Regions from separate parts of the Homo sapiens genome. Here regions 1, 2 and 4 are each reported to be linked to region 3. The links are microRNA targets in miRTarBase. Many come from high-throughput screens and were not tested one by one. Region 3 holds a microRNA gene; each other region holds the end of a gene's coding sequence.

Region 1 (7,368 bases), not on the chromosome of region 3:
GGGGGACTGTATCCTTTGTGTGACTTTTTGAGGAAGCATCTACATACCCAGCCTCGGTTATCTGTTCAAAACTAAAGTCTGCATGAGCTTATGCATATTAAGTGTTTAACTTAATACGTGGCACATGGTGAGCACTTAGAAAATGGGAGCTAGGTAATTATTTGGTTGGGGAGGAGAGTGGTTGGTGAAATAGTTTGACTTCAAGTTCAAAATATTTATTACTGACCTCCACCTGAGTGCTGGACAGTAGGTCAGGGTGGGGTGAGACTCAGGCATATCTATTGTGCAAAAGGAGCAGAAACTTTTTACAATTTTTATTTTATTTATTTATTTTTTTGAGACAGTCTGGCTCTGTCGCCCAGGCTGGAGTGCAGTGGCACGATCTTGACCCACTGCAACCTCCACCTCCCGGGTTCAAGCAATTCTGCCTCAGCTTCCCAAGTAGCTGGGATTACAGGTGTGTGCCACCACTCCCTGCTAGTTTTTGTATTTTTAGTAGAGATGAGGTTCCACCATGTATGCCAGGCTAGTCTCAAACTCCTGGCCTCAAGTGATCCTCCCGCCTCGGCCTCCCAAAGTGCTGGGATTATAGCCGTGAGCCACTGTGCCTGGCCTAGAAGGAACAGAAACTTTTTTTTTTTTTTTTGAGATGGAGTTTTGCTCTTGTTGCCCAGGCTGGAGTGCAGTGGTACAATCTTGGCTCACTGCAGCCTCTACCTCCCAGGTTTAAGCGATTTTCCTGTCTCAGCCTTCCAAGTAGCTGGGATTACAGGTGCCCACCACCACACCCAGCTAACTTTTTGTATTTTTAGTAGAGACAGGGTTTCATCGTGTTGGCCAGGCTGGTCTCAAACTCCTGACGTCAAGTGAGCCACCTGCTTCGTCCTCTCAAAGTGCTGGGATTACAGGTGTGAGCCACTGCACCCAGCCAGAAATTCTTTTGTAAAGTTTTGGTTCTCTCCAAATAAAAATGGCCTGGTCCAAAATGGGCTTCCTTAGCCCTGGGCTGAGACCTCAGGCCACCTGACCCGGCTGTGAATGGATGAGAGGGGTGGGGACGGAAGTCAGAGTCAGGATTCCTTAACACCTTTCCTTCAGATGAAATCCACGATGGGATGAACCTGGAGCTTTATTATCAATAGATGAGAATCCTCATCTTCCTGCCCCGCTTTCCTCTCCCATCCTCATCCCCCACACTGGGATAGATGCTTGTTTGTAAAAACTCACCTTAATAAAGACTTAGATGTTGCTTTGTTGTTGTCTCTGTATGACAGCTGTCTAGTGATGGGTGGATCAGTCGCTGTTTGGTCATCACTGCACCATCAGCATGCAGCTGCTAAAATAAGAGCTCTGATCAACTGGATCCATGAGGGCAGAGTAGACCAGCAGGCTGGGAGTCTGTGTGGGAGCCCAGAGAGAGCTCTGGGGTTTGCTGTGGGTGTCTGAAGGTCAAGAGACTCTGGGATTATTGTCACCCTAATAAACCAAAGAACCTCCGGCTAATGACAGTAGATGTAATTGTTAGGAATTCAGATTCTGAAATCACACAGACCATGTGTGGAATGTCAGCTCTGCCACCAAGCAGCTGAGTGACACTAGGCAAAATTTTTTAACCTCTGTAAGCCTTTACTTCCTTATCCACTGGAAATAATTGCGTTTACTTCATGTCTGCTTTCAATCGGCATATTGTGAGGAGGTATAAATGAGTTTAAAGCATGTTTAAACATCCACAGTTCCTGGCATTTTTTTTTTTTCTTTTTTTGAGACAGGATCTTGCTCTGTCACCCAGGCTGGAATGCAGTGGTATGTTCATAGCCCACTGCAGCCCTGAACTGGACTCAACACAGTCCTCCTGCATCAGCCTCCCAAGTAGCTGGGCAGTGTGTACCACCACGCCAGCTAATTTTAAAATTATTATTATTATTTATTTTATTTGAGACAGAGTCTCGCTCTGTCACCCAGGCTGGAGTGCAGTGGCACGATCTCAGCTCACTGCAACCTCTGCCTCCTGGGTTCAAGCAATTCTCCTGCCTCACCTGAGGCAGGAGACTGGGACTACAGGCGTGCCCCATGACACCAGTTAATTTTTGTATTTTTAGTAGAGATGGGGTTTCACCATGTTGGCCAGGCTGGTCTCAAACTGCTGACCTCAAGTGGTCCACCCTCCTCGGCCTCCCAAAGTGCTGGGATTACAGGCGTGAGCCACCGCGTCTGGCATTTTGAAATTTTTTGTACAGACAGGGTCTCCCCTATGTTGCCCAAAATAGTCTTGAACTCCTGACCTCAGGTGATCCTCCAGCCTTGGCCTCCCAAAGTACTGAGATTATAGGCACAAGCCATCATGCCTGGCCCTAGCACTTCTTTTCAAGACAAAACGTGATAGTAGACAGTGAGGCAGTGTGGCACTATAAGTGTGGCTACATGATCCCAGCCTCAAGAGTCAGACCGACTAGATTTGAATTTTGATTGATCCTTAGCAGTGGGATTTCAGCCTCTGCGACCCTCAGTTTCATCCTCTAAAAATGAGCACTACAGTGGCACCCACATCTCAATGAGACCACGCAATTAGAATAGCAGGATGCCTGGCACATAATGTTATTTGCTGTATTCTTCCTCTAGGTGTGAGTAGACAGGAGACCAACTGTCCCTCTGTTCCCCTGGCCACAGTTCTTTGTGTCAACCTTGCTCCTGTCCTGTTTTATTTTTTAAATTAAAAAAATTTTTTTTTTGAGATGGAGTTTCACACTTGTTGCCCAGGCTGGAGTGCAATGGCATGATCTCAGCTCACTGTAAACCCCGCCTCCTGGGTTCATGTGATTTTTTTGCCTCAGCCTCCTGAGTAGCTGGAATTACAGGTGCATGCCACCACACCCAGCTAATTTTTTTTAGTAGAGACAGGGTTTCACCATGTTACCCATGATGGTCTTGATTTCCTGACTTCATGATCCGTTCACCTCAGCTTCCCAAATTGCTGGGATTACAGGTGTCAGCCACTGCGCCCGGCCCTGAATTTCTTATTTCTTATACCACTCCTCCCACCAGTGGTGGGCATTAATACATTTGAGTGACTCTAGAAACTTTCTGGAATAACCTAGAGTTTTTATCATACGGGGATAATTATATGTCCCGTAATATTTATATGACATTCCATAGTTTGCTTTTCTGTGCTTTTTTTTAATTATTATTTTTTATTATTATTTTTTGAGATGGAGTTTTGCTCTTTTTGCCCAGGCTAGAGTGCAATGGTGCAATCTCGGCTCACTGCAACCTCTGCCTCCCGGGTTCAAGCGATTCTCCTGCCTCAGCCTCCCAAGTAGCTGGGACTACAGGCACGAGCCACCACACCTGGCTAATTTTTTGTATTTCCAGCAGAGACAAGGTTTCACCATGTTGGCCAGGCTGGTCTCAAACACCTGAGCTCAAGTGATCCGCCCGCCTCAGCCTCCCAAGGTGCTGGGATTATAGGTGTGAGCCGTTGGGCCAGCCATGATTTAGCAATTTTGAAACTACTTTTGTGTGTGTGGGTGTGGGCACATGGGCCCATGTAATACACACAAACAGGGTTGAACAAATAAGTAAACTTGTAGATAATGAGAGCTGGGTGTCTCACTGTGGAGAAGGAAGTTACAAATAAAACAGGAGATGGGAATGCTTAAAATGAACCTTGTAGGACTGGATTTGGAGGCATCAGTCTGAATTCATGGTTTTCGTTTAACAGATATATTGATACATATAGATGTGTGTATACATATGTATATTTCCTTGCTCTATCCACTTAGAGGGACCAGAAACAGTGACACTCCAGGAACAGTGAGCACCCATCCTGGAACATAAAAACACTAGTGGGAAAACAGGATTGGGGGGAATTTGTGGTTTAGTTAATAGTATTATATTGATATTGGTTTCTTAGTGTTGATAATTATATTATAGCAGGGTTTCTAAGCTTTGGCATTGTTGACTTTTTTGGGTTGGATTTTTTTTTTTTTTTTTTTTTTTTGAGACAGGCTGGAGTGCAGTGGCACGATCTTGGCTCACTGAAAGCTCCACTCCAGGGGTTCAAGCAATTCTCCGCCTCAGCCTCCCGAGTAGCTGGGATTACATGCGCCCGCCACCACACCTAATTTTCGTATTTTTAGTAGAGATGGGTTTTCACCATCTTGGCCAGGCTGGTCTTGAACTCCTGACCTCTTGATCCACCCACCTTGGCCTCCCAAAGTGGTGGGATTACAGGCGTGAGCCACCGCACCCAGCCTTTTATTTTTATTTATTTATTTATTTTTTGAGACAGAGTCTCCCTCTGTCACCCAGGCTAGAGTGCTGTGGCAAGATTATGGCTAATTGCAGCCTCTTAACTCCTAGACTCAAGAGATCCTCCCACCTCAGCCTCCCAAGTAGCTGGGATTACAGGCACGTGCCACCACACCCAGTGAATTATTTTTGTAGAGATAGGGTCTTGCCATGTTGCCCAGGCTGGTCCCCAACTCTGGGCTCAAGCGATCCTCCTGCCTTGGGCTCCCAAAGCCCTGGATTACAGGTGTGAGCCACCACACTCAGCCCTTGGATTGGATAATTCTTTTGGTGGGGGCTGTGCCTTGAAGGATGTTAGCAGCATCCTTGGCATCTAATACTAAATGCCAGTAGCCAGTAGTATCTCCTGTTCCAAAATGTCTGAAGGTGTTGTAACAACCAAAAATGTATCAAGATGTTGCCAAATGTCCCTTGGGAAACAAAATCGCTACTGGTTGAGAATTCTGTTCTATTGTTTATTTAAGACGCTAATATTAGGGAAGTTTGGGTGAAGGGTACATGAAAACCCTACTGTTTTTGTAACTGCCCATGTCTAAAATTATCTTTATAAAAAGTATCTTTTTAATATTATGCTAATACTTGTAAAAAATGTTCTATTAAAACTTAAACTTTTTTTGTTTTTTGAGATGGAGTCTCGCTCTGTCACCTACGCTGGAGTGCAGTGGTGCGATCTCGGCTCACTGCAACCTCCGCCTTCCAGGTTCAAGTAATTCTCCTGTCTCAACCACCCGAGTAGCTGGAATTAAAGGTGCCCACTATCACGCCTGGCTAATTTTTGTATTTTTAGTAAAGACAGGGTTTCACCATGTTGGCCAGGCTGGTCTCGAACTCCTGACTTCAGGTTATCCACCCACCTCGGCCTTCCAAAGTGCTGGGATTACAGGTGTGAGCCACCGAGCCTGGCTTGAGTGCTTTATGTGGATTAATTTATTTAATGTTCACATCAAACAGAAGGATGTAATTGCTTATCCCCGCTTTGCAGATTGGGAAACCGAAGTACAGAGTAACGTTAAGTAATCAGTTCAAGGTCGCATAGCAAGTGTCAGTCCCAGGCTTTAAACCCAAGTCTGGCTCCAGACTTCTCTTAGCCTTCTACTGCATCCTGCGTCTAATTTGTTGTGGGCAGGTTTCCCTATGAGTTCACTTCACTGAGCCTCATTCTTTTTAACGGTCACATAGGGTTCTATGCTAGGTGAACTGTAGTTGCACCCTTTGCTGTCAGTGTCTTCAACTCCCATATCTACCCACAGTTCCCCAACTCTGGGTCCCCAAATACCTCCCCTGTGTCCCACGGGCTCTGCAGACTCTATTTTAAGTTGGCTAAAACTGAGCCCATCTCCTCCCACCTGCACCTCCTCCGTGTTCTTATATGAATGTCAATGTCGGCACCCACTGGTCACCCAGGATGGAGGAAGGAGCCAGACTGCGAGGGAATAAAGGAAGTAAGCAGGTTCCAAAGGACGTGGAAGGCCTTTGGGTCCAGAGCCTAGGGAAAAGTTGAGCCCTGCAAAAAATAAAAGAGGCTGGGTTAGCTTTGGACATCTGTGGGAAACAGGTGGGAAGAGGGAGGATGGAGGAGCCAAATTTAAGCATCGGGTACTTAGGTGCTCATCTCCAAGGCAACTGCATTGCTATGGCAACAGCAGAGGCAGCACCGCCCCGCCCAAGTACCTCCTGGACCGCCGTTACCTCTGCACCAGCCAGACTCTTCCGCATGGGAGGGCTGGGGGCTTGCGGACCTCCGGGAACAGCTCAGGCAGGCGGGAGTTGCTGCGGCATTAGCCAATCCATAAGCTCTATCCCGCCTGGGTGGGCTCTGCGGCGACGCGCGCCAAGAAGGGGTCGGGAGTTTTTTGGCGCTCGCTAAAGGGCGTTGAGAAGGGCGGGCCCGCGTCGCTTCGGACCACTCAGGAGCCGAGGAGAGCGAGTGGGCGGGGCCAGGCTGAGGCTGGCCGGGGGCGGGGCGCAGGGATAACGTGGGAGGGTCCGCCCAGCCTTTCTTCTACCCAATAGAAGGCCAGAAAGCCAATCCGGACCGTTAGGGAGCCCAATGGGCGTCGCCGCCAGGCCCCGTTGCAGAGCGCGTCTAGCCAATAGGCAGCGGCGGCGGGCGGGCGCGGGCGACAGGCGGCGCAGCTGAGGCGGAGCAGGCGCTGCGGCAGGAGGGAAGATGGCGGACGAGGAGAAGCTGCCGCCCGGCTGGGAGAAGCGCATGAGCCGCAGCTCAGGTGCCGCGGGGGTCGGGGCTGGGGCGGGACTGCGCGGGCCCGCGTAAGCAGGGCTCGAGCTCGCCCCTTGGGCGCGGCGGCAGCGCTGCCTCCCTCCCATGGGGTCCTGGCTCTTCCGCGTCGTCCCCGGGGTAACGGCCCCGGCCCGCCCTGTTGTGGGGACTGCGAGCCTCAGGAGCCGCCGGGAAGCCTGAGGAAGCTGAGGCAGGGGGCTGGGCGGGTGAGGGTCCGGGGAGTCCGGGGCGATGGCCCTGGCCCTGCCGGCCCGGCTGATACCTCTCGGCCTAATGCACCTGACACCCCGGGGGACGTCTCTGCACCTTGCTGGGCCCGGGGGCACCCCTGGGAGGGAGACACCCCAGTACCCTGCAAAGGGCGTAGGGTGTTGCCCGGCCTCGGGTCCACAACCTACCCCTGCTAACACCCCTACTGTGTACACCTAATGCTGAGTCTGCGACATCGCCCGTGACATTCTGCCAGACGATGGCCCCTGTGCTTAGGCCCGATTTAAGGGTTAGCCACAATGATAATATTGCCAGTAACAGGGCATGTTTTTCTCTGTGTCAAGCGCTTTAAGTTCTCTCTGAATTGCCGCAACTCTGGGAGCCAGGTAGTTATTACTTCCACCTTACCAGCAAGGAAACTGAGGTCAGAAAACTGAAGGAACTCGTCCAAGATCATTCATTTCAGGGGCCGGGGGTTGGATTAGGACCTAGGCAGTTTGCCTACAAATCCCCCTCCCCGTGTCACTGCAAACTCCTGAGGAGCAGGCCCAGCATCTGTGGGCAGGTCCCGAGTCACTCTGCTGCCTCTAGAGCCCATAGCAATCGCA
Region 2 (7,337 bases), not on the chromosome of region 3:
AGGCTCGTCCAAAGGGTGGGCTTAGAGGTCGGACCGGCGAGCGGGTGCAGACCGTGGAGTCCCTTAGCGGGGAGTGGGGATTGCATTGGAGCGCGAACTCCCCAGGAAGGGGACCTGGAGGTTGGGCGGACTCAGGCTGCGGGGCTAGGGATTTGTCAACTCTTTAATTGGACCAAGATTCAAGGTCGGCCAGCAGAGAGGGGGCAGGACCCTTAAAGGCGTGGGCTGGAGGTGGCTGGGGCTTCTGGGGTAACAGGAAACAGGGTCAGGGAAGGAGAAAACGAGATTGGATGGGGTGGGAGGAGCTGCCCTGGGCCCTGGGAACAAGGATCAGAGTAGAGGTTTCTGGGAGGGGCTGCTGCTAGAAGGACAGGACCATCACTGGAGGCAGAGACCACTGCCTAGGCTCCAGGCCTCACAAGGACGGAGATGATGGTGCCCGACTGTACAACCAGGTAAGTAGATGCTGTCAGACAATTCGGGCATGGTGGTCAGTCAGAGCCCTGAGCAAACGGGCCTAGAAGGACTACAGGCACAAACACACCCAGGGGCCCCTATCTGCACACTCCCTCATCCCCAAACAAGTCTGTTTGGGGGTTAGAGTCCACCCAGCACCCGTGCCTCCCCACCTAGGAGCAAGCTCTGTGCAGATCAGAAGTGTGCAGTCAGAAAGCTGACAAGGGATTGGCATGAGGCTGAGGCGTACAGGCCTCTTTACCCTTCCTCTGTGAACGGTGACGCAAGAGGGCAACAGAAGCTGCACTGACCCAGACAAATACCAAGTTTATTTCACAAACACTAGGAAGATGGGTTGAGGGTGGAGGTGGGGGACACAGGTGCGCAGCTGCACAGAGTCAGCAGCAGCAGCCTGCTCCCCGCACTGAGGACTCGGCCTGGACTGCAGTGCCTCCAAATCAACACGCAGCAAGAGGGGAGTGCAGGGAGGGCCCTGAACACCAAGCCTCTGAAAGGCTAAGGGACACAGCTCCAGCTGTCCCAGGAAAACCAGCAATAAATAAAAGTGAGGCACGGCCCCACCCACACATATCATCTAGTCACCCATCTTCACTCTGGAGGTCTGCAAAAAAAGAACAGGAGAAATCAGGCAGGGACAGAGGAATAGGTAAGGCAGTGACAAATGATAGAAGATGACATCTAGCACATGGTTGGATGGACAGACCACAAGAGATATATGACTAACCAGGATGGACACACTGTGACAGACAAGGCAGACAGGGACAGACAACCACAGAGTTACGCTGTGGGACAGACGGAGAGAAGTGGCATATGGATAAAGCTAGTCACTAAGAATCAACTCAGTCAAGCACCCACAGTCACACTCAGACCCTCAGGCTGATCCTTAGTCACAAACTCACACACTGTCAGACAGACTAGACACACACAATTTAGACAATGGTGTCCTACTGACAGGCATGTGAGAGGGAGATACACATAGCTCCGAGAGACAGTCAAACACACCATGACAGACTGATATAGACAGACAAAATTCCATTCTAGTCTAGATCACAAATACAGACTGGAGACATGAAAAGCATGGCAGATAAAATGAGAGAACAGAAAGAGGGAGGACTAAGTGCTATACAGATACAACGCATTAGAAAGGGGGGAAAAAGAACAGGGCTGTTGTCAGTGACACCAAATCAGAGACAAAAATAGAGAGCCCCTGTAGGAGAAAACCAGAAGATGGAAATGAGGAGGTGGAAGCTGTTTGGGGGAATCTATAGTTATAGGTAGAGAAGGAGAGCACTTCAGCTTCTCCAGAAGGAGGGTAAGGCTAGGTTGGGGACAAGGACACAGAGGCTTCCCAAGGGGATTCATCACCTGAAGAATTGCGACGATGACCCCAAAGAGGCCAATGGCGCTGCCAAAGATCTCCACGATGAGAATCTTTACAAAGAGGCTGGGGTTCTGAGCATCGGCCAGGGCAGCCCCACTGCCCACGATGCCCACGCAGACTCCACAGAAGAGGTTAGACAGGCCTACGGTGAGGCCAGCCCCAAACATGGAGTAGCCTGGGAGGATAGAGAGGGGTGCAGTGAGGCTAAGCCAGGAATGGGGGAGATATGGGCTAATGGGGCCAATCACCATCCCCACTCTGCAAAGCAGAAAAAGTAGGTGAGAGAATATCAAAATGATGGCCCAAGCTGGGATGGGGGAGAGTGGAAGCAGGCATGAAGTCCCAGCATTTTGCATTCATACGCCCATCCACCCACCTGCATGGTAGTTCCGATGGCCGATGGCCTTGGGGTCTGTGGCACTGAAAGGCTGAGGGAAGAAGAAAAGTAATCAGAAACCATCCTGATGCACCCCATCCAATCTCTAAGGAATGTGTAGAACACACTGGAATGGATTCCCGCCACCACCCTGGCCTTCCATACCTCAGCCATGTTGCTAATGACAATTGCCATGATGATGCCGTAGATGGCCACAGCCTCACAGAAGATGATGCTGGTAGTGGTAGAGATTAGGGGTAAGGAGTGGAAAGGAGAAAGAAATGAGAAAGAAACCGTCCTTCCTGCCCAGTAAGTCCCCAGCAATCTTTCCCCTATAACATCCCATCCCACAAGGTGGCTTGTCAGAAACAGTATGTCAGATCAAACACACAGGCAGCGCCAACACAGCTGGTTCTGACAAAAGTCCAAGGACCCTGACACTTACCTGACCAGGTTCTTGGTCTTGATCCTGGGGGCCTTCACTCCTCCACCAATGATGGAGGAGCCGGTAATATAGATGCCCCTGGTGGAAGGATAAAAAACTGATGAGCAGAGCCCAAGCTGTCACTGCCCTCAGCATGCCTAAGACCCCAGTGACACCACCTGCCATGACTCAGCCCCTGCCCCCAGTCCCACCACCCCAATACTCACCAGGCTGCCCCAACCACAGACAGGGAGATAGCTAGGCCAATGCCCAGGTTGGACCACATGAAGGGCGAAGTCTCCGTCAGGAACCTGTTGTGGAAGCAGAGAAGAAAGCAGTTCAGCTCTAGCAGGGAAGCGGAGCACAAAATCTTAACCCCTCAAACCCCCTTCAACCCCACCACCAGTTCTACAGGCAACAACTGACCGCGTATTTCCCAAAGGTCCATGTCCCAGGCAGGCAGTGGTGTGGGGGAGGGACTCAGACCAGAGAAAAGAAGAGAGGCTGCAGGGAAGAAGCTTCAAGGGGAATCCTCCCCCTGCCCTCCCTTACCATGCCACATCAAAGCGGAAGCCCAAATCAAAAATGGTGTAGCAGACTCCTGCAGCAGTGAGGGAGAAAAAGGGGGTTACGGGCTGCTCGGTAGAGAGAAGTTCTTCAACCTAAAGTAGCTGCCGAGCTGAAGGGCCACCTCCCTGAAGGGGCGTCCTCAGGCTGCCCCCAGGTGACAGTACAGCTGTGTAGACAGATTCCTCTGCTTAGGCCTCCATTTTCTGCCATTCCCTCGCTAAAACCACCTCCCAGACCAAGCACCTGCGCAGGCAGGGTCGCCACCCGCAAGCCCGAATCCGAGGCGGGACCGAGGGAGCAAGCGCTCCAGCCAGATCCCGCCGGCCCAGTCCGTTCCGCTGTTTACCCAACAAGCTGTGGGTGGGGGAGGGCAAAGCGACTGGGAAAAGAGGAACCGGAGCAGCCGGCTTGTGACCGAGCGGGCCGGTCAGGAGCAAGAAAGGGGGGACAGCAGTGAGACGTGGGAGCGAGGGGAGACAGCGATAGTGGCAGGACGGGGGAGTGCTGCCCTCGCGGCCCCTACCCGCCCGCACCCCTCCTCAAGCAGCTGGAAATCCGGGTCTCCTTTGTCGGAGTCAGAGGCCCTCGCAGGCGCAAGTCCCCAGAGCCTCGGGTGCAGAGCGCGCGGGGGGCCAGTATTCCCCGCAGGCCACTTCCCCGCCGAGTTCCGACCCGGCCAGCTCGGCCGCGATGCTGCTCCCGCCCGCCAGGACCCGGCCTCACCCACGGCCAGCGCGCAGGCCCAGAAGGCCACGAAGACCCCGGAGTAGAGCAGTGCTAGCCCCGTCATGGCGGCGACGGCGGCGGGGGTCGGAACGGCGGGGCCGGAGCTACAAACGCGTCCCAGCGTCCACCGTCCGTCCCGCAGTCTGTCCGCCCGCCCCGCAGCGTCACCTAACTCGCCCACGTGATGCGCCGGTACCACGTGACCCCACGCCGGTTCCCCGCGCAGCGCCGCCGCCCGTCTAGAGCAAGGCGACGCTGGAACCGCAGGCGCTGGGGATTGTGGTAGTTGTAGTCACGCGTCTCGGCGGAGGCTTGGGCGCCCTCCTCTCTAGGAACTTCGACATCTGGCCGGTCCTTCTCGAGTCTCTCCACCTCGCCCTGCCAGCCCTGTTTTATTCCCGAGCCTGCTCGCGGGCCCCTAAGGCGTCCTCTCTGGCAGCCGTGCGTCCTAGCCTGTGGCGGGTGGCGCCGCGCGTGCCCTCTGCCTCACCTTGCTCACGGCGTCTCTCCGCCCCAGTGCGCCTGTTGGCGCTCGCTCCGCTGCCTGGCTAACACCTGCTGTCCTCCGAAATCGTCCTTCCGGCAAGCCTTCCCTAACCCAGTGGCAGGGAAGCGCGTTTGCTGGGCTCCCGCGATGTCCTGGTGATGCTTATTAAGCTTCAGTAAGATGTCACTACCCTGTCGAAATGCCCTGATGGCTCCCATTTCATTCAGGAGAAAAGCCAAAGTTCTCACAATAGCCTGCTAGGCTCCCCACGCCCCTCAGCTGACTTCACCTTCTAATATTCCCCCACTAACTCCCTCCTCTGGCTGCACTGCCCTCCTTGCTATTTCTTTGAACGTGCCAACCATACCGCGACCTCACTGCCCTTGCACTTGCTCTCTCTGCTTCTCCTAACTATACATGCGGCTCATCCTGTAACTTCCTTTCAGTTTTTGCTCACCTTCTTGAAAAGGCCTTCTCTGACCATTCTGTTTAATATTCCACCCCACTTAAACGCTCCTCTGCTTCCCAGCTTTACATTTCTCACGGTACTTACTGATCACCATTTGGCATACTAAGTATTTTATTTGTCCAACTCCCCTGGAAGAGTGGAAGCACCATGGCTTTTGTGTCGCTCACTGCTGTATTTCCAGTACCTGGCACAGAGTGTGTCCTCAGTACATATTTGTAGAACACATGACTGATGCCCACTTTGTCTGGGTTACCTTGTTAGCTTACAGCTCTGCCTCCACCATTAGACTAGGCATTCCCTGAGGGCAGGGACCACATCTCCTTTGTTCACCTTCAATACCCTCGACAATGCCACTGTGACCAGATTCTCAACAAATGTGGGGAAGAAGAGGCGAGTCTTTTCATTTCACCCCTCTCCACCTTTAGGGCCCAGCAACCCCACTTGCTTGAAGCATCCGCCATGTTGGTTCATGTTTAAGCCCAAAGGTCTTTTTCACTCCTTTTCTCCTGACAATTATTTTTTCCTCCAAAAGATCCAGCATAGGTGTTATGCCCTCTGGGAAGCCTCCTCTTAGTCCTTGTCAGGTATCTCCTGTGGGATCCAGCTGTCCCTGGGGCTTCCCTCCTCCCAGATAGAGCTGTTTCACTGTGTACTGACTGCGTATTTAACTCTCTTTCCAGGTACACTGGAAAGGAATCTGGTTAAATACAGTTAACATCTACATCCCAGGACCAGTGCAGGACCTGCAGTATTTCATGAATTAAAAAGAAACACAAAGAGAAAAGGTATCTGGTTTATTTAGGTTGCTGTGATCTCCCTGAGAAATAAGAGTCAGTATAGACCAACGCTGTCCAACCAATAGAACTTTCTGCCATGATGGCATATCCTGTAGCTGCACTGTCCCCTCATGTGGCTGTCTGAACACTTGAATGACTAATGTGACTGAGAAACTGAGCTTTTAATCTTAATTAACTTAAATTTAAGTTTAGCCACATGTATTTAGTGGCTACTGTACTGGACAGTGCAGGTCTAGCTAGACCAGTGGTTCTCAATTGAGGGCAATTTTCCCCCACAGATAACATTTGCCAAGGTCTGGAGATATTTTTGGTTGTCACAACTGGGGGAGTGCTTCTGATGTCTAGTGGGCAGAGGCCAGGGATGCTGCTGAGCACCCTACCATACACCAGACAGCCCCACAACAAAGAATTATCTGGCCCCAAATGTCAAGTACGAGTTTGAGAAACCCTGGTCTAGACTGTCTAGCACCTGCCTTTTGACAAGGACAGACCCTCAACTGCAGCCTGGGAACTGGGATTGGCCAAAGGTCCTGGGCTGCCCTCAGGAAGACAGATGGGTCCAGAGGCCTCAGGGAAGTCCCTAAGCCCTTTATTCCATCAGCCAAACAACACGCATTACTGGGCATGTGCTGAGCTTGTGCCAGTGCCAGGACAGGACAGAGACGGATCCTATCCTGTGAAGGGCTGCCTGCTCTCCCTCCTTCCAGGGTCCTTCAAGGATCTTGGCAGGGGGATGGGAGGTTGGTGCAGGGAGCACTAAAGGTCCTAGCAGCCATTCATAAGTCCATCTATGTCTCCAGCCCCACATGGTATCAGCCGCTTCCCTCATCCTCATAGGCGATGGCAATCCCTCGTCTTCCACTCACAGCTTCTGTCACTGGCGTCTGACCCAGGCGGGGCTCCAGCCCTTGCCAGCTCCGGGAACTAAGGAATGAGGCTGTAGAGGGAGGGGGCTCAGTCTGAGTGCGCTGCATCTGGAGAAAAAGCTCAGCTGGGAGTGGAGACTTGTACATTTACCTGCAGGACTGCTCTCAGCCAGCTCCAGCTGGGGCCGTGGGGTCAGAGCCAAGCTTCCATGATCATTTGATGACTTCCAGGCAGGTGGGGGTCGGAGATCTCCAGTAATGAGTGACACGTCTGGGGTTTCCCACAGCTCTGACTCAGGTGGTGGGAGAGCCACGTGGAAGGGAGAGCCTGAAAGGGAGGAGGAAAGAAAATCCATACTCACCCCCTGACTCCGTGCCCCAGGTTTCCAGCTTAGGCAATGCCCCCACTACTCACCAGGCAATAAGTCCGCATAATGTGTGAGGTGGGGAGCCAGGCCTGGAGGTGGCCAGGCAGGGTTGCAGGCAGCTTCCAGCTCACATGGTGCCAGTATAGGCTGGAAGAAGCTACCAGAAAGCTGGGGGGCTAGAGCACCCAGAGGACAGGCTAATAGCACAAAGACATCCACCTCAGGGAAGTTGGCAAGCTTGGCAGGGGTGGGCCGCCCCAGGGCCAACACATAGCTACGCTTGCCAGCAGCCTGAGTCAGGTTCCGCAAGTGGGCCAGTGCCTCACGGTGTTGGGCTACACCCAGTGTGCCTGCCAGCAGCCCTACCACGCGGGCATCTCTGGCCCTCTCTACCAG
Region 3 (7,368 bases):
TCTCAGCTCACTGCAACCTCCGCCTGCCGGGTTCAAGCGATTCTCCTGCCTCAGCCTCCCAAGTATCTGGGACTACAGGCGCCCACCACCATGCCTGGCTAGTTTTTGTATTTTTAGTAGAGATGAGGTTTCACCATGTTGGTCAGGCTGCTCTCAAACTCCTGACCTCAGATGATCCACCTGCCTTGACCTCCCAAAGTGCTGGGATTACAGGCATGAACCATCACGCCTGGTACAATGAGGCAATTTTTAACTCCAGTAGAAACAAAAATTCGTACATGAAGGAAAAATAAACATTGTATACCATATGGTGGTTCAGCTGTGGATGGCGTCTACCTGGTGTCATTTTCTGTTGCTGTAACAGAATACCACAAACTGGGTAATTTATAAAGAAAATAAATGCATTTCTTACAGTTCTGGAGGCTGGGAAGTCCAAGGTTGAGGGGCTGCATCTGGGGAGGGCCTCCTGCTGCGTCATAACCTGGCAGAGGGCATCGCGCAAGCCCGTCAGCTCAGGTGTCTTCCTCTCCTTGTAAGGCCACCAGTACCATCATCAGGGCCCCACCCTGCTGACCCTACCTAATCCTAATTACTTGGCAAAGGCCCCACCTCCAATCAACATACAAACTGGAGGTTTACCTTTCTAACGTGAAGTTTAGCGGACACATTCAAACCATAGCACCTGGTTATGACAGTGTAGAATGGAATATCCATCTAGCTTAAAAAGCAACAAAACTGTACAGGGAGCGTGTGAGTGTGTGTGTTAGAGTTACAGGGGTGAGGTGTGTCAGTGGGTACAGGGAGCGTGTGAGTGTGTGTGTTAGAGTTACAGGGGTGGGGTGTGTCAGTACAGGGAGCGTGTGAGTTTGTGTGTTAGAGTTACGGGGTGGGGTGTGTCAGTGAGTACAGGGAGCGTGTGAGTGTGTGTGTTAGAGTTACAGGGGTGGGGTGTGTCAGTGAGTACAGGGAGCATGTGAGTGTGTGTTAGAGTTACAGGGGTGAGCTGTGTCAGTGGGTACAGGGAGCGTGTGAGTGTGTGTGTTAGAGTTACAGGGGTGGGGTGTGTCAGTGAGTACAGGGAGCATGTGTGTGTGTTAGAGTTACAGGGGTGGGGTGTGTCAGTGAGTACAGGGAGCGTGTGTGTGTGTTAGAGTTACAGGGGTGAGCTGTGTCAGTGGGTGAGTGTGTGTGTTAGAGTTACAGGGTGAGCTGTGTCAGTGGGTACAGGGAGCATGTGAGTGTGTGTTAGAGTTACAGGGGTGGGGTGTGTCAGTGGGTACAGGGTGTGTGAGTGTGTGTGTTTTAGAGTGACGGGGTGGGGTGTGTCAGTGAGTACAGGGTGTGAGTGTGTGTGTTAGAGTTACGGGGTGAGCTGTGTCAGTGGGTACAGGGAGCATGTGAGTGTGTGTTAGAGTTACAGGGGTGGGGTGTGTCAGTGGGTACAGGGTGTGTGAGTGTGTGTGTTTTAGAGTGACGGGGTGGGGTGTGTCAGTGAGTACAGGGTGTGAGTGTGTGTGTTAGAGTTACGGGGTGAGCTGTGTCAGTGGGTACAGGGAGCATGTGAGTGTGTGTTAGAGTTACAGGGGTGGGGTGTGTCAGTGAGTACAGGGAGCGTGTGAGTGTGTGTGTTAGAGTTACAGGGGTGGGGTGTGTCAGTGAGTACAGGGAGCATGTGAGTGTGTGTTAGAGTTACAGGGGTGGGGTGTGTCAGTTAGTACAGGGAGCGTGTGTGTGTTAGAGTTACAGGGTGAAGTGTGTCAGTGAGTACAGGATGTGTGTGAGAGTGTGTGTGTTAGAGTTACAGGGGTGAGGTGTGTCAGTACAGAGAGCGTGTGAGTGTGTTAGAGTTACGGGGTGAAGTGTGTCAGTGAGTACAGGATGTGTGACTGTGTGTGTTAGGGTTACAGGGTTGGGGTGTGTCAGTGAGTACAGGGAGCGTGTGAGTGTGTGTTAGAGTTACGGGGGTGGGGTGTGTCAGTGAGTACAGGATGTGTGTGACTGTGTGTGTTGGAGTTACAGGGGTGGGGTGTGTCAGTGACCGAGAGCTACATTTTCATCTTCTGTAGTGGAAAGTCAGTGGATGCCTAAAACTGAAATGTCAGGAAGTAGGAATGTAAGTATGTTCTTCATCAATCTGGAGATGCATAGCAAAAGAAGTTATTTTAAAGGATTAAAATGGGGAAGGGAGACAGGGGTTCGGGTGGGCCAGGGTCCAACATCGTGGATCGTGACAGCACTTCAGACTGTGAGCATCCATGACTCCATGAAAACAGAAACGAAAGATGGTTTTGAAACTCGTAGGGCGCTTAAAAAGACCATCAGGAAGCCGGGCGCGGTACCTCACACCTGTAATCCCAGCATTTTGGGAGGCCAAGGCGTGCAGATTACAAGGTCAGGAGTTGGAGACCAGCCTGGCCAATATGGTAAAACCCAGTCTCTACTAAAAATACAAAAATGAGCCGGGCGTGGTGGTGGGCGCCTATAATCCCAGCTACTCAGGAGGCTGAGACAGGAGAATCCCTTGAACCCGGGAGGCGGAGGTTACAATGAGCTGAGATCGCGCCACTGCACTCCAGCCTGGGCGACAGAGTAAGACTCCGTCTCAAAAAAAAAAAAAAAAAATCAGGAATTCTTTTACATTTATGAACACATTTTAAAGTTGTTTGGCCCTTGGCTGGGCGTGGTGGCTCATGCCTATAATCCTAGCACTTTGGGAGGCCAAGGCAGGTGGATTACCTGAGGTCAGGAGTTCGCAACCAACCTGGATAACATGGTAAAACCCCGTGTCTACTAAAAGTACACAAATTAGCTTGGCTTGCTGGCGTGTGCCTGTAATTCCAGCTACACGGGACGCTGAGGCACGAGAATTGCTTGAACCCGGTGGGCGGAGGTTGCAGTGAGCGAGATCACGTCACTGCACTCCAGGCTGGGTGAGAGAGCGAGACTCTGTCTCAAAAAAAAAAAAAAAAAAAAAAAAAGATTGTTGGCCCTCAAGGACAGGTCAAGAGGATACTTTCTAAGTCAGAGGACCCAGCCAAGCTCAGGCAGTGGATTAATCTCCGGAAAGACAAATATGAGCCTCTCAGCCCGTGGGGGTGAGTGTCCCTTCGTCTGGAGACAGACATATCAAAGCTGGAGTTATCTCCGCATTCGAAAATAGATTCCCAAGTGTATTCGTTCATTGCCTCGTGCCTGCCAAGGGAAAATAAATATTTCCAAAATTCTCTTTGAGGATTGCTATTATGGAGCAAATATGTATGTTCTTTTTTAATTTATTGTTTGTGTTTCACGCTCAGTGTGTTCATTGCTGACGGCTGCAGGACTTGGCACATGATGGTGCCTTCCCGAGAGCTTAGTAGGGTTTTAAAGGACTGTGAAGAGATTTTTGGTCGTCGCTCAAAGCGTAATTTCACAGGGCCTGAAGCTCCCGCGCTGGGGCTAGTAGAACTATCTAGTTGGAAGGCTCCAGAAAAGTGTTTTTGTCTCCTTTTACATTTTTTTTTAGAGACAGAGTCTCACTCTGTCACCCAGGCTGGAGTGCAGTGGCACGATCATAGTTGACTGCAGTCTCCAACTCCCGGGTTCAAGAGATCCTTCCACCTCAGCCTCCTGAGAAGCTGGGACGACAGGTGTGCACCACCATGATTGGCCAATTTTTTTATTTTTTATTTTTATTTTTTTGAGACAGAGTTTCGCTCTTGTTGCCCAGGCTGGAGTGAAATGGTGTGATCTCGGCTCACCACAACCTCCACCTCCCAGGTTCAAGCAATTCTCCTGCCTCAGCCTCCTGAGTAGCTGGGATTACAGGCACCCGCCACCACGCCCGGCTAATTTCGTATTTTTAGCAGAGACAAGGTTTCTCCATGTTGGTCAGGCTGCTCTCGAACTCCTGACCTCAGGTGATCCACCCCGCTCGGCCTCCCAAAGTGCTGGGATTACAGGCGTGAGCCACCGCGCCCAGGCCCTAATTTTTAAATTTTTTGTAGAGATGAGGTCTCACCATGTTGCCCAGGCTGGTTTCGAATTCCTGGGCTCAAGCGATCCTCTCACCTTAACCTCCCAAAGAACTGGGATTACAGGCGTGAGCCACCGTGCCTGGCTATTTTCCTTTCTGTAAAAGGACTGTTTCCTTGATACTCACTTGGTCACCTGGGAAAACCACAGCAGTGTGGTTTTGGTCTGACAGCAATGGAGGCTACGCCGCGTGCCCCACTGTGGTGAGGTCAAGCTCCTGGTGCTAAGATGCTGATGGTAGCAGTGGCCCATCTAGAGTGGCTGCTGCCAAGATGCCGGCTGCAGCGGAGGCATGGCTGGGCCTCTCGATCCACGGATCAGGCAGCAGCTCCGCCTTCCCTGCGTGCCGCGGCCCGCTGCCCTGGGGCAGCTCTAGACGCGGGCGTCTCTGTGCTCTTGGAGGCCTGGGAAGGCCACCCCTGCCCCCTGCAGGCTTAGAAGTGCCTGCTCCAAATGCCTGGCCTCTCCTCACTCCCCACGCCCGCTCCAGTCGTGGAGCACAGTTGGGGCTGAGCCCAGGTGCTGCTGCAGACCATCCGGGTGGGTCCACACTTGGGGCAGCACGGACACACCAGCCCTTGCCACCTCAGCCCCCTCGGGACTGGGCGCTGTTGAACATGGGAGGGAAGCTGAGGGAGGGCTGAGGGTGGCTCAGTGCTGGCCTGCAGGCGCCCCTTGGCATGAACAAGCTGGGTGCCATGAACAGCAGTGGGAGGCAGACAGACTTCTGGGTGGAAGGGGGCAGGTCCCTGGTGAAGCCACACCTTGAAGCTTCAAGGGGGCCTGGGGCCCGGGCTGCCAGTCCTGCAGACTGGAAGGAGGACTCGGTGCTTTTGTCAGAGGGGGGATGTGCATGCTGGTTGGGGTGGGCTGCCTGTGGACCAATCAGCGTGCACTTCCCCACCCTGAAGACCACAAAAACCCCAGACTCAGAGCAACGCGGACGTCGGGATGACCAGCTGCGGAGAGCTACCCTGTCTGCTGAGAGCTGAACACTTGTCAGGACGACCTGCCTGCAGAGAGAAGCCACCCACTGTGGGTCTCCCCTGAGCTGTTCTAACACTCAGTAAAGCTCCTCCTCGTCTCGCTCACCCTCCACTTGTCTGGGTACCTCATTCTTCCTGGATGCAGGACAATAATTCAGCAGCCACAGAGGTTTCCAGCCGGAAGAGCAACATCCCAAAGGCCCCATCAGTGCCCCGTCAGCGCCCATGCCAAGAAGAGAGAGACAGACGGTGCACTCAGCGTGCCTGCTGGGCTCGGTGGCAAACGTTTGGCCAGCTCAGGAAAGCCTCGTACTGGGTGGGTCAGGGGACTGCTTGGCCGCTCTGTCTGAGCCTCATCACGGGGCAGGTGGCGTCTGCAAAGCGGGTGCTTCGGGCGTTCTCAGTGCTGCTGTATCTTTTGTCCTCTGAATCACTCTCCTCTGACGGGGGGAGTTTGCTCTGGTGTTGCTTGGTCTAATCTACCTGGTGGCGTGATGGGCAGTCTCTGTGGACAGAGTGTGGAGTTTAGCAGGAGACAGAGGAGGATGCGGGAAGCCTGGACTCCATGTCTCTGGGGCTCTGGTGGCACCACAGAAAGAGCCTCTGGAGTCCAGGAAGGGGGCAGGGCCCGGAGGAGGAAGCAGAGGGCAGGGGACAGGCTGGACACAGCAGCTGTGGGAGGGAGGGGTGCTCGGGATCTCATGGAAGGCGCTGCACAGGTGTGCTCAGATCAGGCAGGTGTGCCATGCACGTGCTCATGGCTGCATCAGTGGAAAGTGGAGGACAGAGGCCCAGAGCTGCTGCAACGCCCAGGCCTGCCTGAAGATGTGGGCGACCAGCTGTCCAAGCCAAGTGGGAGGCCACCGGTGGCACCGCCACTGCACACCTCGCTCTGCCCGACAGGAGACCAGGAACTCGGCACACTGCCTCCTGGGATGCAGGGGGGCTTGTGGCCAAGTCCAAGGGTTCTAGACCCTTCGAGGGGGCAGAAGCTGCTTGAGAACCGTGGCCTCCGCAGCCTCGCATTTTTAGAGGAGCCTGTTTCTGGGCACTCACTGGCTACATCGTGGGCTTCTCTGGAAGGAGAGCTGCAGAGGCCGTGTGCTCCACGACGGTCTCCAGGGTGAGGTCTGGTGCGAGCCTCGGCGCTGCTTCTCCCCTCGGCCTCTCAGCGGCGCGCTTCCCTTTAGAATTCTGATTCCCTATTCAGCCATACTTGTCAAAGCACTCAACATCCGATCACAGCCGAGAGTGAGGCCAGGGCTTGTCTCTTGTAGGTTTAGTGCTTTGAGAGATACTGTCAAGTAAATCCTATACATGAAATAAATCAAGCAAATCCCACAAAGGCTGGTCATGTCTTGTTACTAAGCAGTTTGGGTTCCTGTGATTGTACGTGTCATTGTACCTGGTTTTAGGAAGGCAGTGCTCCTACCCGGCATTCTCCAGCCCCTTAACTCAAACCCTCTCTTTCCATGTTCTCAATGACAGACCTGGTGCTCATCCGGAAGCGCTAGAAGTGAACACAGGAGATGTTTCCTAAAGAAGCAGAACACTGGTGTCTGGGGGGTGATGGGGGCGGGGAAACATATTTTTCCCTTTAAAAATATTTATTGGCCGGGAGCAGCAGCTCATGCCTGTAATCCCAGCACTTTGGGAGGCCGAGACAAGTGGATCACCTGAAGTCAGGAGTTCAAGACCAGCCTGACTGATATGATGAAACCCCATCTCTACTAAAAATACAAAAATTAGCTGGACGTGGCGGTGTATGCCTGTAATTCCAGCTACTCAGGAGGCTGAGGCAGGAGAATCACTTGAACTCAGGAGGCCGAGGTTGCAGTGAGCCAAGATTGCACCACTGCACTCCAGCCTGGGCAACAAGAGCGAAATTCCATCTCAAAAAAAAAAAATGTATTGTGGCCAGGCATGGTGGTTCATGCCTGTAATCCCAGCACTTTGGGAGGCTGAAGTGGGAGGATCACTTGAGTCCAGGAGGTTGACCAGCCTGGGCAACACAGCAATGCCCTGTCAATTAGCCAGGTGCGGTGGCAGGTGTGGTGGCAGGTGCGGTGGCAGGTGTGGTGGCAGGTGCGGTGGCAGGTGCGGTGGCAGGTGTGGTGGCAGGTGCAGTGGTGTGCCTATGAGCCCAGGAGGTAGAGGCTGCAGTCAGCTGTGATTGTGCTACTGTACTAGAGCCTGGGCGAGGGGGAGACCCTGTCTCAAAAAAGATTTTTTTTAAGTGTAGTTTTTTTTTTTTTTTTTTTTTTTTGTTGTTGTTCTTGTTGTTTGTTTTGATACAGAGTCTCCCTCTGTCGCCCAGGCTGGAGCACAGTGGCACAATCTCAGTTCACTGCAACCTCCGCCTCCCGGG
Region 4 (7,368 bases), not on the chromosome of region 3:
CAGTCTAGTAGGTCTTATGTTCATCTAGGTAACTGATACTTCAAAGACAAGTGAATTAAGTTTTCTTTAAAAGTACCCTTTTCCTAAGCTTGGATCTGAGTCTACTCTTCCTGAGATCTTTTTTTTTCTTTTTTTTTTTTTTCATGTTTGACTCTTAGTATCTGAGTCCTTCTCCACTTAACTGGAATTTCATCCTATTTTCTGTAGTTTGAATATAATGTAGAAGGAGTGACTTCCAAGGAAATGGCTACCCAACTTGCCTTCATGCGCCTGCTGGCCAACTATGCCTCTCAGAACATCACCTACCACTGCAAGAACAGCATTGCATACATGGATGAGGAGACTGGCAACCTGAAAAAGGCTGTCATTCTACAGGGCTCTAATGATGTTGAACTTGTTGCTGAGGGCAACAGCAGGTTCACTTACACTGTTCTTGTAGATGGCTGCTCTGTAAGTAATAGTGAAATATGGGAATAGCTTTGGGAAGTGGGATGGAGGGGGTTCTAACTTAGACTGCCCCCAAGGGGGGGTCTAAAGGGGGGTTAAAAGAACAGAAGAATGAGAGAACTAACTTATTTCATAAGTAAATTCAGTTTTTGTATGTATTTTATATTTATTTATTTATACGTATTAATTTCGTACTTAAATTCAGATGATAAATTCAGAGTATTCTTATCAGATAGTGCCTTCTGAAATGCTGAAATGTATACTATGTCCATGCATTGTTTTTTCTTTAGCATGTTTTTTAAATGGTAATGTGTGCCCAGAACTTAAAATTTCTTGAGACTTCAGTGGCCTAAACTATAATTTATAGTTATGTGTATTTTATTTTACTTATTAGTATGGCCTACATTTAACTTTTAATGCTTTTTCTACAATATGCTATAAATATAAGAAAAATTAAAATTCACTAACAGCAAGACTACATACCCACCCAGGTCCCGCTCCCAAAGACACACATAGAGGGACATACACACAACAATCCTAAAAATGACTTTGTAGAGATAGGTCACTTGGAATGTGTGTTGAAATGTTGTTGGTTTTTTTGGTTTGTTTGTTTGTTTGTTTTTTGTTAGACTGATAGGGAGCCCCTCCCACTAAAGACACCCTTGATACTGTTATTTCAAGGATGAACTTATTTATCTGGGACAGACATCTTCAGAATGACACATGCCAAACAGTGGTTCTTATTAAATCAAAGGTTCAGATATTATCAGATTCAGAAATAGTGATGCTTTGTGTATCTATTTTCTTCTCTTTAAACAGAAAAAGACAAATGAATGGGGAAAGACAATCATTGAATACAAAACAAATAAGCCATCACGCCTGCCCTTCCTTGATATTGCACCTTTGGACATCGGTGGTGCTGACCAGGAATTCTTTGTGGACATTGGCCCAGTCTGTTTCAAATAAATGAACTCAATCTAAATTAAAAAAGAAAGAAATTTGAAAAAACTTTCTCTTTGCCATTTCTTCTTCTTCTTTTTTAACTGAAAGCTGAATCCTTCCATTTCTTCTGCACATCTACTTGCTTAAATTGTGGGCAAAAGAGAAAAAGAAGGATTGATCAGAGCATTGTGCAATACAGTTTCATTAACTCCTTCCCCCGCTCCCCCAAAAATTTGAATTTTTTTTTCAACACTCTTACACCTGTTATGGAAAATGTCAACCTTTGTAAGAAAACCAAAATAAAAATTGAAAAATAAAAACCATAAACATTTGCACCACTTGTGGCTTTTGAATATCTTCCACAGAGGGAAGTTTAAAACCCAAACTTCCAAAGGTTTAAACTACCTCAAAACACTTTCCCATGAGTGTGATCCACATTGTTAGGTGCTGACCTAGACAGAGATGAACTGAGGTCCTTGTTTTGTTTTGTTCATAATACAAAGGTGCTAATTAATAGTATTTCAGATACTTGAAGAATGTTGATGGTGCTAGAAGAATTTGAGAAGAAATACTCCTGTATTGAGTTGTATCGTGTGGTGTATTTTTTAAAAAATTTGATTTAGCATTCATATTTTCCATCTTATTCCCAATTAAAAGTATGCAGATTATTTGCCCAAATCTTCTTCAGATTCAGCATTTGTTCTTTGCCAGTCTCATTTTCATCTTCTTCCATGGTTCCACAGAAGCTTTGTTTCTTGGGCAAGCAGAAAAATTAAATTGTACCTATTTTGTATATGTGAGATGTTTAAATAAATTGTGAAAAAAATGAAATAAAGCATGTTTGGTTTTCCAAAAGAACATATTGAGTAAAATTCCTTGCTTCAATGCTCTTTGCAATATAAATATGCATCTCTACCAGCCATTAGACCAAGTGCCTCTGATTAGATAGAAATTATGCAAAAAGGGCAGTTTGGTGTGGTAGAAAGAGCAGAGAACGAGGACCCAGGAGAGCTGAACTCCAGTTCTGGCTCTGTTCCTTGTGGCTGAGTGACCTTGAAACTCTGAGCCTCTGCATTTCAGTTTCCATAGCTATAATATGAAAAAATTCCTTTTCAGCACTATTAAGCATTTGCCCTACTCAAAATATGTAATATTTAAGCAACATGGCATTTTTGACCTAATTTTACTATAACCAAAGGTCTATAGAAACTTGGTTTATTATATATTAAGCACTTTATAACAGTGGCTGAAAGTTGGTCTATGAGCAATTAATACTATTAACTAAAACAGTTTCAAATATTCAGTAAAAATGCCATACACTTAAATCTGAGGCAACTGAATACAATGCCTGTTAAGAGGTAATGTGTGTGCTGTCAATCAGGATAGACAGTTGTGGATAATAGTACCACGAACACCTACCTGCCAAATCAAGTTCATTTTCCTCCCCTGCACCTTTCAATAACATCTTTAATACACTTAAACATAGTAATGTGTCAAGTAAAATGTTAAGATTCATTTAGAGCTTATTTCCTGTTGCAGAACATAATTGTGATTGTAATATTTGCCTTGTGTTATAAGTCATCTCAAGATTCAATTAGTTTTAAAGGCAAAAGACTGAACATGGTAAAAATGTAATATTAACCTTAAAAAGTTAGCAAGGTCTCCTAATCAAAATGCAGATTCCTGGTCCTCATCTGCCAAATTCAGATTTAGTAAGAAATTGCTATTCTTACGCATCCTGTGAAATTCAGATGTGCACCAATTGAAGGACCACCTGATGAGGTTACTGCCATAGTCCTTTGTAGCTCTAATATTCTGTGTCTGACAAGAAGGAATATATATATCTGACCAAACCATATATAAAGATAACTCCTGGGATCCGAATGCTGGTACTCTCTATAAATTAGTAATTAAAATGACCATGCAAACTTACATGATAAAACAGAAATCTCTGGATCAAATATGAACTATACCCTCAGACTTATAGCAAAAAAAAATAAAACGCATTTATTGAGTACCTGCTAGAGGCAAAAGCCATGCTAAATAATAATAATGACCTTTGTCAAACTGAATCTGAATTAGCAGATTTCCTAAGCCAATGCTCACTTAATAATCACTTAATCATCATCAGTGTGAGACAACTGAAAATAGTCAAATAAATAATGGTACACCTAATGGATTACAATGAGGAAACAAATTATGGTATATCCAGTAAACAATGAGGAAACAAATTACAGTATATCTAATAGATAACGATAGGATGAATAGTGAAATAAATTTTGGTATCCCAATAACATTTATAAGGATGATTTAACAAAAGAAAAACTTCTTAGAATAGAATTTTCAATCTTGAAAATCTAATATTCAAGAACACTGTCATTATAATTAGATATTTTAAATATACATGTAAAAAAATGCTGAGAGTAGGCACATTTGTATAGAAGTTTAAGGATGATTTTTAGGCCTAAAATTTTCAAATTTGCAACAATGTAGCTATATTACATTATTATTTACAACAAATTTACTCTTAAAATATTATGAAAGAAGCAGTCAAAAGTGAAAAGAATCTGGTTCAGGAGTAGCCATCTCCAGGGAAGGAGTGGTCAACCTCCCACCCACCTGTTTCCTGAAGAGAAGGACAAGCCTGGCCTAAGGGTCATCATCCACCATGGACCAGCCATCCTGAGAGAAGCTTGGGAGGGTGTACAAAGCTCTACCAGGCCACAGCATCTTCAGGGAGCTCAGGGAGCTTATAGTGCGGTTCCAGAGGCAGAATAAAATAATGTGTGAACAGAATTTTAAATTACATATCCTCTGAGGATAACAGAAGACACTATTAATTAATTAGAGGGAGTCTCGGGAAATTAACCTTTGTCTCACACAGTAACTGATATTTGGATTGAACTGGCCTCTCTTGATAGAGATCTCATTTCACCTTCAAGCTCTCTGGCTCAATCCTTCTTCTCTGGAAGTCACATATTAAAACAGCCTGGTACTTACCAAGCCAGGAGGTCCACTGTGAGTGTTCCCAGGGCCTAGACTCAAATGTGGACATAGAGCAATAGACTGAAGACTTGGCCCTTCCATGACGAGCCCACTCTTTAGAGGCTGATCACCAGGCCCAAAGCATACTCCTCACAACATTTCTTGACCCTTGGTGGAGTGAAGGTCAGCCACCTCTAACTTGTAGGAGTGTGAAAGGGAAGAAAATTGCACATGAAAGAGAGAAGAAGCAGGTAGCCAAGATCTAGGGAGGGGACATTAATCAAGTCTAGTAAAAAGGGTCATTTAAAATTCTAAAATCAATACAGCTAATGCATTGGCAAAGAGCAAAGATACCTGAGCAATGCTGAATACATTTATTATCTTTAATGCCAAAAGACTTTTTTATGCTATTCCACTTAATATCACTGTAAAGGAAGTTCAGAAATTGGATTATATATAAGAAAAGTTGGAAATGTCATTCTGGGTCAGAACAAAAATCCATCTAGATGAGTACTTTGCCTTTGACAGTGGCACCAGGGGAAATTTGGGAGAAAGAGCAGTTGGCACTTCTTGTGAAGCCAGCCTCAGAACTCCCATTTAATAACCCATTGTAAATCTTTTTTGTACATAGATGTATCTAAACCCTTCCAGAGTCCTCTATCTATTTTGAAATATGTTGGTATTACAGTACCAACAGGAGAGAGCTAGTGCTGAATTGTTAGCTCAGCTTCCTAACCCTCTGATCAAGTAGCTAAAATATGTTTTCTATCCTTGTGCCTGGATCAGCCAGGGATTCGACAACTCCATATCCTTAGGGAGCACTAGTAAGTCCAACAATGGGGCCATAGACAACCCATAATGAGCGACTTATCCCTGCTCTTCAGTGAAATGAGCACATAATTTGTGGTCAGCAGCCAAGGCTATGAGTATCAGCTCTGCCATTGACTAGCCCAGGGCCCTTGGGAAAGTCTCTTAAGTTTTTTGAGAATTTAGTTAACATGCCTGCTTTAGTTAACATGCCTGCTCTTAGAGATTGCCATTACCACACATATCATCTCACAGAACTGCTGGGGGTACCAAAACAGGCATGTGTGAAAGTGCTGAGTAAAGTATGCACAATAGACTTGTCATCACTAGGTCCAAAATTTCCTGGCCACTGGTGGTAGCCTCTTGATTTATTTTCTGATCACTGGCCCTCTAATTTAGGAAGAAGAGAGTGTAGAATTTACACTTAATTAGCACCACTCTCTAAAGTGGTAGTGTATCAATTTTGAGTTATGCCTCCTTATCAGTAAAAATTTGAGTTCTTACAACAAATTTACTTACTTATATATAAATGTTATGTATATATTATGGTGCTAGTATATGCAATATAAAACCTCTACAGAAAAAAAATCTGTAAAGACAGAAAATAAATACACATAGAAGGGTCCATAGTCCAGTGGATCATTCTGCACGCCCCTGGGATGCATGCACCACCCCCTTCCATTTTAGAGAGTATTGCACTAAACAAGGATGGTCTTCAGGGGAGGAGGAGCATCAATGAACTCCTGAAATCACATGTTAAATACACTTTGTGGGTATGTGCATTTTTCTTGGAAGAAAAGTCCACAAATTTCATCTGATATTCCTAGGGGTCCATGTCCCAATTAGACTTTATAAGCCACTGCACAAAAGAAGTATTATCCACATCGCTAAACCCTGGACTTTTCTGAACTATGACTTTCTCTTTTTTTTTTTTTTTTTTTTTTTTTTTTTGATGAAGTTATACTCTTGTTGCACAGGCTGGAGTGCAGTGGTGCGATCTTGGATCACTACAGCTTGAACTCCCAGGTTCAACCTACTCTACTACCTCATCCTCCCTAGTAGCTGGGATTACAGGCATGCACCACCATGCCCAGCTAATCTGATATTTTTAGTAGAGACAGGTTGTGCCACGTTGGTCAGGCTGGTCTCGAACTCCTGACCTCAGGTAATCCGCCCTTCTCGGCCTCCCAAAGTGCTGGGATTACAGGTGTGAGCCACTGCACCCGGCTTGAACTATGACTTTCATATCTCATCTTAGGTGTCTTACTCAGAACATGCTGCTTCTCCTACCCTAAGACCTGAGAGAACCAACCAGCACCAGTCCAAATGTAAATAATGGTTTGTCTTTTATTCTTCCACTTTTCTGGTATGAGTCCTCTGTCCTACGCTTTAACTAGGCTTGACATATACCTTATGACCTGTACTTTGTAACATAAAAATACACCAATCTTCAGAATCTTTTTAAAGAAGAGCAAACAAACTCAGTAATGGGGGACAATTAATTGAGCTATGCCTTTTAGGTAAAATGTGCTTGTATTAGTTTTTTTAATTTTGAAAAGTGATAGAGTTTAACCTAAAAATTATTGCAATTTCTGGCACTGTAAAATGTCTTGAGGACAATACTGTAATTGTTTTCCAGGGATCCTCAAATCACCTAATAGAACCAAATCTTTTCATCTGATTGCTCCAAAGCAAACCTATTATTCTGAGCTCCAGACATAGGATTAATTCTGGCCAAAATTAACAATCTTACTGGAATCTAGAAAGGTATCCTTAAAATTGAGATTCACCGTAAATTTAAAGACATTTTTAAGCAAAGCACACAATGCATTTTTACTATCAAAGTGAACATATTTTTGTAGTGTAGTATTGCTCTTGGTGTCCAATGGCTTAATTAACAACAATAATGATGAAATAAAACTTAAACAACATCTTTAAAATGGAATCTATTAATGCTAGGCAGAGTAAGAACACCTAGTGCCAAGTGGATGGACCTTTCTATCGCTACAATATGTCAATTCGAGTTCAATGCTCCCCCTGCTGGCTGGATAACAGAACACCTCAGTCCTTTAACAGTGCCGCGGGCATACCATTGGAGAATGAAAATTCCAATTTAAGGGGAGAAAATAGAACAGCTTCCTGTGCTTATATCCTGTTAACTCCAGACACACAGCCTTCTCCTCAACT

The links. The annotated mature microRNA hsa-miR-4525 reads GGGGGGAUGUGCAUGCUGGUU and lies in region 3 at 4,856-4,876, shown strand. An mRNA with a match to its seed (bases 2 to 7 or 8) in the 3' UTR can be bound and repressed. Matches are read on the target gene's strand: a 7mer-m8 pairs with bases 2 to 8, a 7mer-A1 pairs with bases 2 to 7 and ends in A, and an 8mer does both.
Region 1: the mRNA of UBL5 is a reported target of hsa-miR-4525. Seed matches in the 3' UTR shown: 8mer at 1,187-1,194.
Region 2: miRTarBase lists DPH2 as a target of hsa-miR-4525. Seed matches in the 3' UTR shown: 7mer-m8 at 6,436-6,442 and 7mer-A1 at 6,029-6,035.
Region 4: the mRNA of COL1A2 is a reported target of hsa-miR-4525. Seed matches in the 3' UTR shown: 7mer-A1 at 1,611-1,617.

Annotation. Positions count from the first base shown.
Region 1 is chr19:9,828,867-9,836,234 of GRCh38, forward strand. It overlaps UBL5 (ubiquitin like 5), which reads left to right. Exons shown (of 5, transcript NM_001048241.3): 4 at 1-8; 5 at 1,099-1,249. The coding sequence ends at 1,142. It overlaps PIN1 (peptidylprolyl cis/trans isomerase, NIMA-interacting 1), which reads left to right and starts at 6,452. Exons shown (of 4, transcript NM_006221.4): 1 at 6,452-6,536. The coding sequence starts at 6,479. It overlaps PIN1-DT (PIN1 divergent transcript), which reads right to left and starts at 6,149. Exons shown (of 2, transcript NR_183873.1): 1 at 5,998-6,149; 2 at 5,213-5,812. RefSeq lists silencers at 6,154-6,493, 6,524-6,743.
Region 2 is chr1:43,971,722-43,979,058 of GRCh38, reverse strand. It overlaps DPH2 (diphthamide biosynthesis 2), which reads right to left. Exons shown (of 6, transcript NM_001384.5): 4 at 6,989-7,337; 5 at 6,725-6,901; 6 at 5,690-6,644. The coding sequence ends at 6,520. ATP6V0B (ATPase H+ transporting V0 subunit b) reads right to left here and starts at 4,099. Exons shown (of 8, transcript NM_004047.5): 1 at 3,952-4,099; 2 at 3,211-3,259; 3 at 2,886-2,969; 4 at 2,680-2,757; 5 at 2,400-2,469; 6 at 2,235-2,286; 7 at 1,843-2,033; 8 at 764-1,078. The coding sequence starts at 4,018. The coding sequence ends at 1,052. LOC124904167 (a long non-coding RNA gene) reads left to right here and starts at 4,194. Exons shown (of 2, transcript XR_007066053.1): 1 at 4,194-4,616; 2 at 5,172-5,694. RefSeq lists enhancers at 1-555, 556-1,147, 3,280-4,112, 4,311-4,360, 4,411-4,530 and 3 more and silencers at 3,561-3,610, 4,011-4,060.
Region 3 is chr17:82,665,789-82,673,156 of GRCh38, reverse strand. MIR4525 (microRNA 4525) reads left to right here and starts at 4,850; the gene lies at 4,850-4,924. All of the region lies in intron 1 of RAB40B (RAB40B, member RAS oncogene family), which reads left to right. RefSeq lists an enhancer at 4,196-4,375.
Region 4 is chr7:94,428,981-94,436,348 of GRCh38, forward strand. It overlaps COL1A2 (collagen type I alpha 2 chain), which reads left to right. Exons shown (of 52, transcript NM_000089.4): 51 at 208-450; 52 at 1,267-2,247. The coding sequence ends at 1,413. Among named protein-coding and RNA genes, the nearest start is that of COL1A2, 38 kb to the left of the region's middle. RefSeq lists a silencer at 7,196-7,245.